Homo sapiens: one gene and its partner. Each later gene encodes a partner of the first gene's protein in a complex. Each region holds a gene or a part of one and is shown in the gene's direction. Other genes may lie near its edges.

Evidence for each region. The genes of interacting proteins can lie anywhere in the genome.
Region 2: the proteins of SHC1 (region 1) and ITGB3 are in contact, whole or in part, in an NMR structure (PDB 2L1C), measured with the Homo sapiens proteins. Residues at the interface, in NP_892113.4 of Homo sapiens: Ser175, Met176, Arg177, Asn182, Arg184, Thr185, Gln186, Thr188, Arg189, Glu190, Ser193, Leu194, Arg208, Arg209, Lys210, Arg214, Pro215, Leu216, Ser217, Ile219, Met257, Gln258, Ser259, Ile260, Ser261, Phe262, Ala263, Ser264, Gly265, Pro268; in NP_000203.2 of Homo sapiens: Trp765, Asp766, Thr767, Ala768, Pro771, Leu772, Tyr773, Lys774, Glu775, Ala776, Thr777, Ser778, Thr779, Phe780, Thr781, Asn782, Ile783, Thr784, Tyr785, Arg786, Gly787, Thr788.

Annotation. Positions count from the first base shown.
Region 1 is NC_000001.11:154,967,748-154,975,433, reverse strand, and holds the start of SHC1 (SHC-transforming protein 1), read left to right. Parts: upstream 1-4,686; 5' UTR 4,687-4,907; coding exon 4,908-5,402; intron 5,403-5,985; coding exon 5,986-6,056; intron 6,057-6,599; coding exon 6,600-6,663; intron 6,664-6,819; coding exon 6,820-6,939; intron 6,940-7,176; coding exon 7,177-7,230; intron 7,231-7,402; coding exon 7,403-7,454; intron 7,455-7,636; coding exon 7,637-7,686. Other genes in the region: CKS1B (cyclin-dependent kinases regulatory subunit 1), read right to left, coding at 630-688. UniProt on the Homo sapiens protein: Signaling adapter that couples activated growth factor receptors to signaling pathways. Participates in a signaling cascade initiated by activated KIT and KITLG/SCF.
Region 2 is NC_000017.11:47,284,827-47,291,855, forward strand, and holds part of ITGB3 (integrin beta-3 precursor), read left to right. Parts: intron 1-1,433; coding exon 1,434-1,596; intron 1,597-2,243; coding exon 2,244-2,405; intron 2,406-4,854; coding exon 4,855-4,950; intron 4,951-5,358; coding exon 5,359-5,448; intron 5,449-6,127; coding exon 6,128-6,262; intron 6,263-7,029. UniProt on the Homo sapiens protein: Integrin alpha-V/beta-3 (ITGAV:ITGB3) is a receptor for cytotactin, fibronectin, laminin, matrix metalloproteinase-2, osteopontin, osteomodulin, prothrombin, thrombospondin, vitronectin and von Willebrand factor.

The DNA of each region.
Region 1 (7,686 bases):
ACTTTAGCAGAACACCTGAAACCTGTTAAGTATTCCGTAACTGTTCCCTTTGATATTTAAAGGGCATCTATTAGACCCATATTAAGTATTTTCTCAATGCTCCTAGCCAGTTTTATTCCATTGCAGTCCCAAGCGATCCCCTTCCTTACACAAGCCAGACAACCACGCCCCTTGTCTTTTTCACGAGTTAATAAGCAATATTCAACTCTCTCAGCGCTACTCTCCTGTTAGGGACGCCAGGAAACTTCCAGCTCCGCTTTTGCTACGTTCTCCCACTGGATTCGACAAGATTACTGTGAAACAGTCTCTACAAGGCAAGTTAAGTTTGCCCGATAAAGTTCAGAGAATGATCCAGAAAGCCTCATGGGTGAGGGTGGTCAGTACCCTAACCACGCCCACCCCTCTCTCCTCTCTACTGAGAGGCGACTCCAAATTCGCAACCACTTTGTTTTACGAGCGCCTCCCACCTCCGCGCATGCGCCTTACGCCTTCCACAATATCACACCATTGCCCGTTCGCACCTCGTACGCATGCGCCAATTCTATCGCCTCAGTTCCTGTTACTAATTCCTTGTGCCCTCAGCGGCCAAAGCTCACGACCCTCGCTATTGCTCCCGCGCCAGCACTAACCGATACTCAAACTCCTCGTCGTCGTATTTGTCCGAATAGTAAATTTGTTTGTGCGACATGATCGCTCGGTTTGCTAGCCTTCAGCCCCGCGCCGCCAACCTCCAAGCAACTCCCAACAGCACGCGCTCCCACCCACTTTGGCCTCGCTTTCAAACACGCCGCCCGCACTTCCTATTGGTCCGTTTGGCTCGAGGCGGGACACCTCTACTTTCAAGCCTCCGATTGGCTTAGATTTACTTCTCTTCGGATCCTTATTGGAGGGCAGTTCTCACGCTTCTCAAGAACGAGCGTGGGTCAAAAGTAGGCGTCTTATTGGCCACCACTGCCTTTGTGCGCGATCTCGCGCTGCCATTGGCTAACTCGGGAAAGTGGGAAGCGTGAAGGAGGGACCCTGAGGTAGAGGGTCAGGGGTTAGTGAGGCCGGAAGTGAGTGTAATAAAGTTTCTCCAGGGAGGCAGGGCCCGGGGAGAAAGTTGGAGCGGTAACCTAAGCTGGCAGTGGCGTGATCCGGCACCAAATCGGCCCGCGGTGCGGTGCGGAGACTCCATGAGGCCCTGGTGAGTCTTGACTTTTTTCTCCTTAGGTGACTCACTCTTTCACCCCGGAACCCCTCTCCCGGGACCCCACTTCCGGTCTTCATTTATAAGTCCCGCCCCTGAGACCCCTCTCCCCGGAAGTCCCACCTCCCAACTTCAGGGGGCTCCCCCGAACCCCGACTTGATTTTTATTTTTTGTCTCCGACCCCACCCTGTCGCCCAGTTTTTCTGGAAGTCCCCACCCCCCGACACGTTCCAAGCCCTACTACGAGAAACCCTTCGTTACTCCTTCCATTCTCCGAAACTCCGCCTCCTAGCAACGATCCTCGGCTAACTCCTGTCAAAAGGCCTATCTCCCAAAAGGGCAAAACCCTGCTCTTCAAAGAACGATTCGAATTTGTTGAAGCTCCGCCCCTCCGAAGCCACGCCCCCTCCGTAATCCACGTCTGACTGTCCAGAAAGCCTCCCCGCCCAGAAGTCTGAAGTTCGCGTCCTTAGGGGACCACGCCCCCTTAGGAGCTTTATCTTTGTGGGACCTGGGTCATCAGCTGAAAAGCCTTGTCGTCAATCCCTGAAACTCCACCTGCTTATATTTTCCTGTCCTTTCTCTTTTTGGGCCTTGGGATCAGTTTTCCGAGCACTCTCGTGCTCCCCCAGGTGGGAAGTCAAAGTTCCCATCTCTGGCTGTAAGGAGTGAGATTAAAGGCAGCCGTTTTCCGTTTTCCTTTCTATCTTTTTTTTTTTTTTTTTTTTTTTTAAGACGGAGTTTCGCTCTTATCGTCCAGGCTGGAGTGCAATGGTGCGATCTCGGCTCACTGCAACCTCCGCCTCCTGAGTTCAAGTGATTCTCCTGCCTCAGCCTCCTGAGTAGCTGGGATTACAGGCGCCCACCACCACGCCCGGCTAATTTTTGTATTTTTAGTAGAGACGGGGTTTCCCCATGTTGGCTAGGCTAGCCTCGAACTCCTGACCTCAGGTGCTCCACCCTTATCAGCCTCCTTAAGTGTTAGGATTACAGGCGTTAGCCACTGCGCCCGTCCCCGTTTTCCTCTTTCTTAACCTCCTCCAAGGGTAGAACTATTTGAAAGGGCTGAACGTGGGGTTTGGCACGAGAGGGAGAGAGAGACTTGCCCTCAGACTCCCAGCCTCACTTCCTGGCTTTCCCTTCCCAGGACCAACCTCATCCCAGAAGTAGCTCTAGGCCTTCCTAGACATAAGTGGATAAGACCATGGATTTGTTGGTGTGTGGCATGTGGGTGTGACATGAGCAAAAGTTTTCTACTACCAGAAGAACGGTAGTTTGGAGTGGGGGTAGATAATAGTGCTCTTTTTGTTGTTTGATTTTTTTTTTTTTAAGGGACAGTTCAGTCGCTACTTCTCTGTCTCTTCCCCTCCCCCTAACCAGAGTTCTTGTCTGGGCATTCCTCCTGGCCCCGTTTGCCCAGCCTTCCCTGCTGGAAACATTCCTGAGGCTTTCGCCATTTCCTGCCACTTCCCGCCCCTGTCCCCTCCTCCCAGTTGGGCTGCGAAGCCACACACAGCTTTTCCCCTACACCCAATCACCTGGACTTCCAGTAGGCAATCTCCTTTCTCCCTATGTAAATTTCAAGAGTCATACGTCTTTCTTTTCTTCCGAACGCCCACACCCGTTGGTCCTTCCCTGGCTCTGGATACTGTAGGCTCCCACAGAACATCATCTCTACAGATGAGGGACATCCTAGTGTGTGTTTGTGTGTTTTGGGGGTGTGAGGCTATGGTGGAATCCTTTCCTCATTCTCTCTATGCCCGAGAGCTGGCTGGAAATGAAGTGATAAAATTCCTTCTCAGGATTGGCTGGCAGAGTGACAAAGCTCTTCTGGAATGAGCACTAAGGGGAGATGTAAGAGTTAAGCACAGCATCTAACACACTTCAAGTGTTAATGTTGTTAATCAGGATAATTATCTATCTATATTTTAATTCTCTGAAGTAAATCTAAGGGTAATTCCAAGGTGAGCTGGGGGGAATACGTATTTTTTTTTTTTTGAGACGGAGTTTTGCTCTTGTCACCTAGGCTGGAGTGCAATGGCTCGATCTCGGCTCACTGCAACCTCCGCCTCCTGGGTTCGAGCGATTCTCCTGCCTCAGCCTCCTGAGCTGGGATTACAGGTGCCCGCCACCACGCCCAGCTAATTTTTGTATTTTTAGTAGAGACAGGGTTTCACCATGTTGACCAGGCTGGTCTCGAACTCCTGACTTCAGGTGATCCACCCGCCTCAGCCTCCCAAAGTGCTGGTATCACAGGTGTGAGCCACCGCGCCCGGTAGGAATACGTATCTTTGTTTTTTTTTTTTTGGTCACTTTCCAGCTTTGCCTGTGGCATTCTCCGGAAGAGCAGTGGCAGGAAGCCGTGGGTGGCAGGAATGGGTTTGGGACTGTTCCCTGTGTCCAGCTTCAACCCATCTTCTCCTGACACCCCTTTCTCCTGTACTTATTTTTCTCCTGTCCTTATTGACGCAGATGTGTCTTCTGATCTCTCTGTCCCTTCCTGGCCTGTAGTTTCTACTTCTCTTGGAGAACTGTTTCTTCCACCTCCTCCAGCCAGGCTCCTTCCCTGGTGTGAAGGATGCTGTGCTCTTTGGTGGGGCTTAGGGCCCTGTAAGAGGAGGGATGTGAATTGGGGTGGTTTGGAGTGGGAGTGGGGACCTGATTGCCTCATTCTCACCCTTGACAGTGTGCTGTGTTAACAAGCCCTGTGGAAAGGGGAGACAGGACAGTGCTTGGCTATGAGCCATCGGTCTTGGTGTGGTAGATGGCATACGTAGAGAACAAGCCGTGACCAGCATGTCCTCTTGTTCCCTTCTTGCCTGGTAGCTTCCTGATGTATCATCCAGGTTGAACTTTATTCCCCTTTTTTCACCAGCTTTGCTCTTCCTCTTGGCCCTGCTCTGCATCCATTGGGACCACTTACTTCCCATCCCCACTTCGCTAGCTCCAGTCCACAGCTGCTGTAGCAGAGGATGCTAATGGCCCAGGCTTACTGTATGGGGTAGCGGTTGGGGGTGGCCTGGGCTGGGGCCAGCCAGCTTTCGGGCATAGAGAGGGTGGGGGAATTCGAGTGTCCAACCAGGACAGGAAGGGAAATGCTGAGCTCTGAGATCTCCTCCCTTTTCCACCCCCAGCTGCCTCTGTTTCCTCCCTCATTCCCCTGTACTCCTGCCTGGCTTCCTGCCCCCTTTGGCCTGCGTGTGTCCGGTTTTGAGTGACCCAGACCTCCTATCTCCTTCCTTTCCGTCCCACTCTTCCATCCTTCCCTCCCACCCCCACTTTACTTCTCCCCAGATTACTAGTTGTTTGTATAGGGCAGGGGAGAGGGGCTTGGATAGCCCTACCCCCTGCTCCAGTTCGAGGTTGGGGCGGGGTGGGGGCTCAGCCCCTCTGAGCCTGTGAGTCAGCACTGTCCTCACGATTGGTCTCTCCCCTTAGCTCCCCGCCCCTGGGGAGGAGCCAGAAGCGCTGGGTCCAGCCTGTTCTCTTCTCAGCCAGAGAAGAGGCTCCACGTTGGGCGGGGATGGGGCCTGAAACTGTCTGGGTCTGAGCTGGGGAGCGGAAGCCACTTGTCCCTCTCCCTCCCCAGGACTTCTGTGACTCCTGGGCCACAGAGGTCCAACCAGGCTAAGGGCCTGGGGATACCCCCTGCCTGGCCCCCTTGCCCAAACTGGCAGGGGGGCCAGGCTGGGCAGCAGCCCCTCTTTCACCTCAACTATGGATCTCCTGCCCCCCAAGCCCAAGTACAATCCACTCCGGAATGAGTCTCTGTCATCGCTGGAGGAAGGGGCTTCTGGGTCCACCCCCCCGGAGGAGCTGCCTTCCCCATCAGCTTCATCCCTGGGGCCCATCCTGCCTCCTCTGCCTGGGGACGATAGTCCCACTACCCTGTGCTCCTTCTTCCCCCGGATGAGCAACCTGAGGCTGGCCAACCCGGCTGGGGGGCGCCCAGGGTCTAAGGGGGAGCCAGGAAGGGCAGCTGATGATGGGGAGGGGATCGTAGGGGCAGCCATGCCAGACTCAGGCCCCCTACCCCTCCTCCAGGACATGAACAAGCTGAGTGGAGGCGGCGGGCGCAGGACTCGGGTGGAAGGGGGCCAGCTTGGGGGCGAGGAGTGGACCCGCCACGGGAGCTTTGTCAATAAGCCCACGCGGGGCTGGCTGCATCCCAACGACAAAGTCATGGGACCCGGGGTTTCCTACTTGGTTCGGGTGAGTGAACATCCTCCTCTCCATTCCCCCGCAGACCCCCTCCAGTTCTAATGCTCACTCCAGCTTGGCCGGAATCTCTTTTTTCCTGCTGTTCCCCAACAACCCCGTTTCAGTGTCCTATTTCCTAAACCTTTCTCATCCCTTCCCCGATTCTGTAGCCCCTTCCCTTCCAGCTTTGCCTGGGCCCCCTTCCTTCTTTTCACTCCCCCACCCCCACCCTGGCATGCTTAGCACAATGCCCAGCATGGCAGAAGCTCTTAATAAGTGTTGGAATGAATGACTTCTTGATCTTTCCTCCATTCTCCTCCCGCTTTCTGGAGTTGTCACTCCATCCCAGCCAATGCCTGTCGGTCCCCTCCAAACTCTCTCCCCAGTGTGTGAGGTCCTTCTAGCCTGCCTTTTCTTTTTCTCCTCATTCCCTGTTGTCTTTCACCTTGGTTGTGGGATGTAGCCACGGGAAGTGGGCAGAACTTCTTCCTCTTTACTTCCCTTAGGGACCATATGGGTAAAGTCCTAGGGCCCTTTGTGAAGGGGCTGGGGTGGGGGAGCCGCTGACCTGCTGTCCTCTTCTCCCTCCCCTTAGTACATGGGTTGTGTGGAGGTCCTCCAGTCAATGCGTGCCCTGGACTTCAACACCCGGACTCAGGTCACCAGGTTAGTGGGGAGGGAGTGGATTGTGGGAGTCCTGGGATTAGTGAGGCCATGGGAAACAGAGGAGGGGAGTGGGTCACTTGGGTGCTGCTGCTGGGGGCTGATCTTTGCGTAGTAAAGGGGATTGAGAGAAAGCTGAGGTAGTGATTCCGCCTCTTACTGAAAGGAGGCCCCTTTGGCCCGGATCCTCCTTACCTATCCAGCCTTGGGAGTTGTGGGGAAGGTGGCAGAAGCAGCTGGCAGGTGGAGCTGGAGTAGAAAAGGGGGGTAGATGGAAGGTTGCTGCTGCCTTTGGGAAGGGAATGGGACATTTGGTAGCTGGAAGGGGGTGGGGCTATACCCATTGAGGCCCTAACCCAATCAGCCAGGAAGTGGCCTCTCAGTGTCATCAAATATTAAAGGCCCTTAATTCAATCCACCATGACAAAGAGCCTGGAGTGCCCTGGGAGTCTGGCCTGGCTTTCCCCTCCCCCAGCCCTGTGGCAGCCCCAGTTGAGTGGGAGGCAGGCAGGCAGGCGCTGGGTCTGAGTACCCCTCTTTCCCCAGGGAGGCCATCAGTCTGGTGTGTGAGGCTGTGCCGGGTGCTAAGGGGGCGACAAGGAGGAGAAAGGTACTTGGGGTCCTTGGGGATAGGGATGCTGCTGGGAAATGTGGAGGGGCAGTGGGGAGGCAAGTGTGGGGCATGTGGGGAGAGGGCCAGGAGGCAAAAGTGTGGTTTGCCTGTGCTGGGAACCCTCACCTTCTGAGACCCTGGGCCCTACCTTAGCCCTGTAGCCGCCCGCTCAGCTCTATCCTGGGGAGGAGTAACCTGAAATTTGCTGGAATGCCAATCACTCTCACCGTCTCCACCAGCAGCCTCAACCTCATGGCCGCAGACTGCAAACAGGTTGGTGAAGGTGGGCAGACGGACCAGAAACACTGATGGGGGTGCTAAGGGGAGATCTAGTTAGGAGGCCAAAATCTAGGAAGAGGGCTTGAGAGCAGGAGACCAGTAGGGAAGGAGGAAATGAGGATATGGGATAAGGAACCCAGAGAATGAGACTGGGGCACCAGGGTTCTGGGCCCTGAGGCTGCCTGACACATGGCATTCCCTTCCTTCTTCATCCCCTGCCCTAATTCTCAGATCATCGCCAACCACCACATGCAATCTATCTCATTTGCATCCGGCGGGGATCCGGTGAGTTGGGGAACAGAGCAAAGGCGGTGGGAGAAGAGCAAGGGGCTAGGGATTGGGAAGACATTGATTAGAGAAGTGGGGGTGCTAGGATTGTGGGGATATCTGAAAAGGACTGGGTTTTAGGGGTCAGGAGTAAAGTAGAACTGTAAAATTTTTTGACCTTCCTCCCCAGGACACAGCCGAGTATGTCGCCTATGTTGCCAAAGACCCTGTGAATCAGAGAGGTGAGGCATGGTGGGGAGCACTGGGTGGGTCTGGCTGTTTGAGGAGGTGAGTAGGACCTTTGGTCATCTGTACCCACTCTAAGTAGATCTCAGTGGGGGTTCCTGCAGAGGAAGATGAGGGCCCCTGTCTGTGCCTCCTCCCAGTGGGCTCAGCTCACTGACAGCCTCTGCTGTGCCCTCAGCCTGCCACATTCTGGAGTGTCCCGAAGGGCTTGCCCAGGATGTCATCAGC
Region 2 (7,029 bases), on another chromosome or scaffold:
GTCTCCCTGTTTGGCAAATGGGCTAGCTTGTGGATCTGGAGTGTTGTGTCAATGGAGCCTAAGGCTGTTTGGAGAACCTAGAAAGAAAATTCATCAGCTTCTCAGTCTTGGTAACAAATAAATAGAAGGCAAGAGAGAATGGGAGGGAAATGACGTCAAAAGTAGAAAGAAATTTATGGATAAGGAAACCGAGAAATTACGATTACAGAAGGATCGATTCCATTGTTGGCATTATTGTCTTCATCAAGGCCGTGCATCCTGCAGGGTGAAAACAGAAGAAATGAAGTGCTAAGGAATATAAAAGAGTGGAAATGACATTTGTTGGACACTTTTATAGTCTGTAAATGGATAACTTGTGCCTCTGTTTGACACTTTGGCTTAAAACTGAATGGCTTATTTATTTAATCGGTGGAGACTGTGCAAATCCATGTATTAGAATAACTTACAATGCTGGTTGCTGAGCCTGAAAAGGTGTGAATTTACTTTTTAGTTTTCAAAGTTACGGCCAGGTGGGGTGACTCACTTCTGTAATCCCAGCACTTTGGGAGGCCAAGATGGGAGGATCACTTGAGCCTAGGAGTTTGAGTTCAGCCTAGGCAACATAGTGAGACCCCCATCTCTACAAAAATTACAAAAAAATTAGCTATGTGTGATGGCGCATGCCTGCAGTCCCCAGGACTACAGGGAGGCTGAGGTGGGAGGATTGATTGAGCCTGGGAGGTTGAGGCTGCAGTGAGCCATGATTGTGCCACTGCACTCCAACCTGGACAATGGAGCACAACTGTCTCTAAAAAAAAAAGAAAAAGTTTTGAAGTTATATGATGTGGCATTCAACCTTCTATCTGGGTTGTAAGGTTCCCAGGCAAGACATCAGCTATTAATTAAACACACTATTTTGACTGGGGGCAGAAATGCTCCTGTCTTGCATGATCTATCAATTTATTGATGGTTCAGGGACCTTAACTTACTGATGGACTTTTGCTTTATTGTTACTTTAGGAAAGTGTTAAGTATAAGGTGATAGTAATAGCAACTCGAGCCTCGCTCTGGTCTAAGTGCTTTGTGTGTATGAACTTACTTAAGTCTCACAACTCTTATGGGATATGTGCTATCCTGGCCCCTCTTTCATAGGTTGGATTGAGAGGCTTGCCAAAGGTCCCATGACTAGTACAGAGGGCACCTGGGATCTAAGCTCAGGGAGTCTTGTTTCCAGCTCAATCTCTTATCTTCTAGGTTAGCTGGATGGGGGTAATGTTGATGGGGAGCTTCAGATAATTTGAGGATTTTGGAGTCTGAACTGTCTGGGTAACTGTGGTTGTATGGAACTGGCCTTGGCATACCACTATCTATATTTGTCCCCTCTCTTTCCTCCCAATTCCCATGCTGCCTTTTCCATGAAGGTGTCTGCTTAAATTATCTCCCATCCCTCCCCAGTATGAAGACCACCTGCTTGCCCATGTTTGGCTACAAACACGTGCTGACGCTAACTGACCAGGTGACCCGCTTCAATGAGGAAGTGAAGAAGCAGAGTGTGTCACGGAACCGAGATGCCCCAGAGGGTGGCTTTGATGCCATCATGCAGGCTACAGTCTGTGATGTGAGTTTGGAGGACTTGGAGTGCCAGGTGTGGCTGGCATAGATCAAAATGGGAAAGGAAGTGACTGAACTCTGGGGATTTCTGGTGTAAAATGAGATGAGAACTAAGCAGGGCTTCCTGCAGTTATGAGTAGTAAGTTGCTCCTGATATTCAGCCTTGGCTTAGATCCACTCCCTGGCCTGAGCTGACATTTCTTTGAACCTCAGTGGTCTCAGATGTTCCCAGGGGAGAGCATCTTCCCATCTTCAGAGTTACTTCAGAGTTAAGGCTGAGTTAACTTAACCTCAGCAAAGTAGGCAGATGTTCAGATGAGATTTCTTCTAGCCCAGATCAGCTCTGTGGATGCACGTCAGTTTCTAGATGAGCAATGTGACTGTCATTAGAAGAGTTAAGTTTGGAGTTTAAGAAGATCTCATTCAGCTGCTTGAACTAATCAGCTATGAGACTGTTTTCTGAAGAGAATGAAACTCCTGAACTGGAAAGCTTCAGCTTCGGTTCCAAGGACTGGGACTGAGACCCTTGTTTTGAAGAAAAATAAGCTGTCCAGCCCTTTAGCCAGGGAGCACCTTGGGTCTCTGTTCTCTACCAGTGACATGGCTGAATTTGTTTTGTCTCCTCTGCCTTTGTTTTTTGTTTTCTTTTAACAGGAAAAGATTGGCTGGAGGAATGATGCATCCCACTTGCTGGTGTTTACCACTGATGCCAAGACTCATATAGCATTGGACGGAAGGCTGGCAGGCATTGTCCAGCCTAATGACGGGCAGTGTCATGTTGGTAGTGACAATCATTACTCTGCCTCCACTACCATGGTGAGATCTCTGGCACCACCTATGGTTTCTATTCATGATTGTGAGGGTTGCCCTAATCTAGGCAGAGTCTGTGTGAATATGAAAATGGCAGCCCCTCCTTCTGGGCAGGGTGCAGGGCTCGGTTCCAGCTTGCCCCTATCCCTTACCAACTGGACACCGTCATCCAGCATACAACCTATATAACCATTAGAGATGTCCCTGATTGTGGTGTTATCACTGCCTTCACTGTCACCAGCATAGCAGCAGCATCATGGGATCCAGAATGGACCCAAAGGATTTTTACAACCCAGCTGGAAAGCAGGTCTTCCTCTCCACTCTGATTAGCCCTTTCTTGGAATACCATACTAACTTGTGGTTATTGGAAGAAGACAGAGGAAAAAAAAGAGAAAGATTGGCCAGGCATATGATGGCTCATGCCTGTAATCTCAGCACTTTGGGAGGCTGAGGTGGGAGGATCACGTGAGTCCAGGAGTTTGAAACCAGCTTGGGAAATATAGTGAGACCCTGCCTCTACAAGAAAATGCAAAAATTCGTTGAGTGTTGTGGTTTGTGCCTATGGTCCCAGCTACTTGTGGGGCTGAGGCAGAAAGATCTCTTGAGCCCAGTAGTCTGAGGCTGCAGTGAGCTGTGATCTTGCCACTACACTCCAGCCTGAGTGACAGAGCAAGAACCACCCCTGCTTTTTTTTTTTTTTTTTTTTTTTTTTTTTTTTGATACAGAGTCTTGCTTTGTTGCCCAGCTGGAGTGCAGTAGTGCAATCTTGGCTCACAAGCTTCACCACCTCAGTCTCCTGAATAGCTGGGACCACAGGCATGCACTACCATGCCCAGCTAATTTTTGAAAACAGGGTCTTTCTATGTTGCCCAGGCTGGTCTCAAACTCCTTGGCTTAAGCAATCTGCCCTCTTAAGCCTCCCAAAGTGCTGGGATTACAGGTGTGAGCCATTGCTCCTAGTGGAGACCCCTTCTCTTAGAAAGAGAGAGAGAGAGAGAGAGAGAGAGAGAGAGAGAAAGAGGGGAAAGAACATAAAAGGCATGGTGAACAGGTCCTACGAGGAAAGATTAAAGGGCCAGAGTCATTTAGCTTGAAAGAAAGAAGGCTAAAGGATGATTTAGCTTATACATGAGAAAACTTCTTATAAGTTGTTTTATATGGCCATAGAAGGTTAAACAAGAGGAAAATATTTAAATTGAATCAGGAGAAATTACTATAAGCCATAAGAGAAATGTGCTGTAATGCTCTAGGTATCTGGGGCAGGTGTGAACTCTTCGTCTCCTAAGGACAATATAGCAACTTCCTCATCTAGGTGACTTAAAGGTGTACCTGTGTAAAGGCAGGAGACTGAGCTGAGGATCTAATGAGCTCCCTGCAAGGTCTAGGATCCCATGGACATGTTCACGATTCACCACCGCCCCCGCACAGTGTCCTTGAGTTCCTTGGTGTCAGCCATATCCAAGTCAAGCACTACCAGACAATGAGTCAGCAACATTTGACCCCTAATCTATGCAAGGCACTGGGCCAGGGGCTGAGGGAGGTAACAAGACTATGTATGGTTCTATCCTTGGGGAGTTTTTGGTCTACTTGAGGAGAAAGGATATATATATTTACAATAACACAAGATGCATGATTAGTGCCAAATGGGTGTGGCACAGCCAATGTGGCTATACGTATCCAAGGGAGGAAAGGTCATCATGAGCTGGGATGGCCAAGGAAGTCTCCTGAAGAAGGTGGGGGCTAAGCTAGGCCCTAAGAAAGGAGGAGGATTACCAACAAGAAGGCCACTCCAGGTGGGAGACAGTGGGCCAGATCACTGCTGAGTGGAAGAGGGAGAGAGGTGAGCAATATTTGGAAAGAAAGACTGAGACCACACGGTGGAGGATCACGAGGGCCAGGCCAAGGCATTTGTCAGTAGTTCCAAAACAGAGGCCTAACCCAGTCCCTTGTGCACGGAAGCAGCTCCATAGTATTAGTGCATTAAATTCAAGCAGGAAGAAAGAGGTGCTTAGTTTTGACACCACTGGCCTGTACCTCTTCGTCTATCCCTGGAGTTCACAAGTAGACTTCTGTGCTACTTACCCTTCTTATCTCACTGTCACCCCCCTTTTTTTTTTAGAGACAGAGTCTTGCTCTGCTGCCCAGGCTGGAGTGCAGTGGTGCAATCATAGCTCACTGTAACCTCCAACTCCTGGGCTGAAGTGATCCTGCCTCAGCCTCCCCAGTAGCTAGGACTATAGGCACTTACCACCACATCTGGCAAATAAAAAAAATTTTTTTGTAGAGATGGGGTCTTGCTATGTTGCCCAGGCTCTTGTCTCACTTTCAGCATGAAGTGAAATGGTTTAAGCACCACCACACTCTGAGCCACAGCCCAAGCAAGATAAGTTCTAAGCTTTAGACCCTAGAGATGTACATGAGACGTCATTAACCTCTACATCCTTCATTTTCCTAGGATTATCCCTCTTTGGGGCTGATGACTGAGAAGCTATCCCAGAAAAACATCAATTTGATCTTTGCAGTGACTGAAAATGTAGTCAATCTCTATCAGGTGACTGTGCCTTCGGGCTTCCTGGAGTGGGCCCTGTGATGGTGGGTGCCCCAGGTAGCCAGCCTGTGCTAGCATTGGATACAGTCCCCAATCAGGAAAGAGTCTCCCCTAATCCACTCCCCAGGAGCTAAAGATTGCACTCTGGGCCTTTTTCCTGCAATCTTGAACTTACTAGGTATGTGTTGGTGTTTGTGGTGGTGGAGGGGAGGTGGTGAGGGGTGTGAGAGGTTTCCTCTACTTTTGCTCAGGGCTGAAAAACTGCTAGATATATTCCTGGCAGTGACAATTGAAATATCCCGTACCTTCCTCCAATCTTCATCTCAGGACTCTCAGTGGGATTTGGGGAGGGCTTTTGGAGACCACCAGCTTCCTTTGGTAAGCTCTGGACATCTTTGTTTTCCTTTCTAGAACTATAGTGAGCTCATCCCAGGGACCACAGTTGGGGTTCTGTCCATGGATTCCAGCAATGTCCTCCAGCTCATTGTTGATGCTTATGGGGTAAGTGTCTTGTGCTGGGAATAGTCCCGCGGAGAGTCCACCTCATTTGGCTTACACAGCAGGGCTCAGATTTGTGAGTCCCAGTTGCCAGTCTACCACACGGTCTTACTGCCTTCTCCGTGTGCTCCCAGAGCCCAGGCAATGGCCCGCTCTAGAAGGGATGCAGCCTTCTGAGAAGGAAGGAAGGAAGGAAGGAAGAGAGAAAGAAGGAAAGAAGATGGGGATGGGGATGGTGATTAGATGGAGAAGGAGCAGAGCCCTGGAATTGTGGGGGCAGAGTGAGGGAAAACTGGGCTCCAATAACAGGGAAAAGAGAGAGCTGAGACATGGGGAAGGTGAGGTTGATGAAACATTAGGTAGAAAATGCCACTTTCCAAGGTGACCAGTATTGGCACTCCCCTTTTGCAACATCTGTGAGGCCTGCAGGAGGGTGTAGCTGGTACATTTTACCCAGACTCACCTAGACGCAAGTGGAGATGGAAAGAGGGAGCAGGTTCCTGCGCAGGAAACAGAGTCCTAGGGGTGCTCCGGCAGCTTCCAGGTCAAACCTTGGCCTCTGGCACTGCTGGGGTGAGTCCAGAGCTACTTGCCAGATTTGGCTTGGGATGGAACTGGCTCTTGCCATTTCCCGTTTCCTTTCAGTTCAATTTCTTGTCTTCTTGTGCCCCTTTCTGCTCAGAAAATCCGTTCTAAAGTAGAGCTGGAAGTGCGTGACCTCCCTGAAGAGTTGTCTCTATCCTTCAATGCCACCTGCCTCAACAATGAGGTCATCCCTGGCCTCAAGTCTTGTATGGGACTCAAGATTGGAGACACGGTGAGGTGGGCTGGGCAGGGCCTTTGTCCTGGAGCATCTGTGGGCACCCAACCCCCTTTCTTCCTTTTGTAGTGACTAAAAATGGCCCCCTTCCACCAGAAAAAAAATATGGGCAAGAAAAATACGTTTCCTGAAAGTCATTCTAAGTTAGATGTAATGGATCCACCAATCTTTTCCTCTGAGGCTTCTGTTGCGTAAGCCATTTCTGTTACGTGAACTTCACTCTCAGGAATTTGAAAAACTTACAATTTGGTTACCTTTGTTTGTGTATGCACAGTTGATTGCAAAGGAAAATATTTCTTTACCTTCAGTCCCTCACCAGTCGCCAGCCTTTCCAAGGTAATTAATACCTTTCTTTTGTAAAACGACACAAGAAAGTAAAATCTAAAATGTAAAACACTCCAGTCTCTCCACGACTTTCCTTATTGGTCGTTTCTCCTCCGCTTCTGCCTAAGGGGAGAGGGGTTGGTGGGAGGGGAGGAAGGAGGGGAAGAAAATAGATCTTTGGATACGCTGATCCTTTCTATTGACCTATCTGTCTCTCAGGCACTTGTGCAAACATCCCATGTTAGAAATATTGTCCTGAAACATGCTTTATTGCATAAGCTATGAAATGTGTGGGAACTGAAGTAGATCCTGAGCTTATGATTGACCACCATGTGGGATTGTGTGGTGCAAAATAGTGCTTTGTGCATCTTGCTGATAATTATAATCAGGCCAAAGCAGGGTGTTTATATGATCACAGGTTCTGTTCAGTTTGAGCTGGT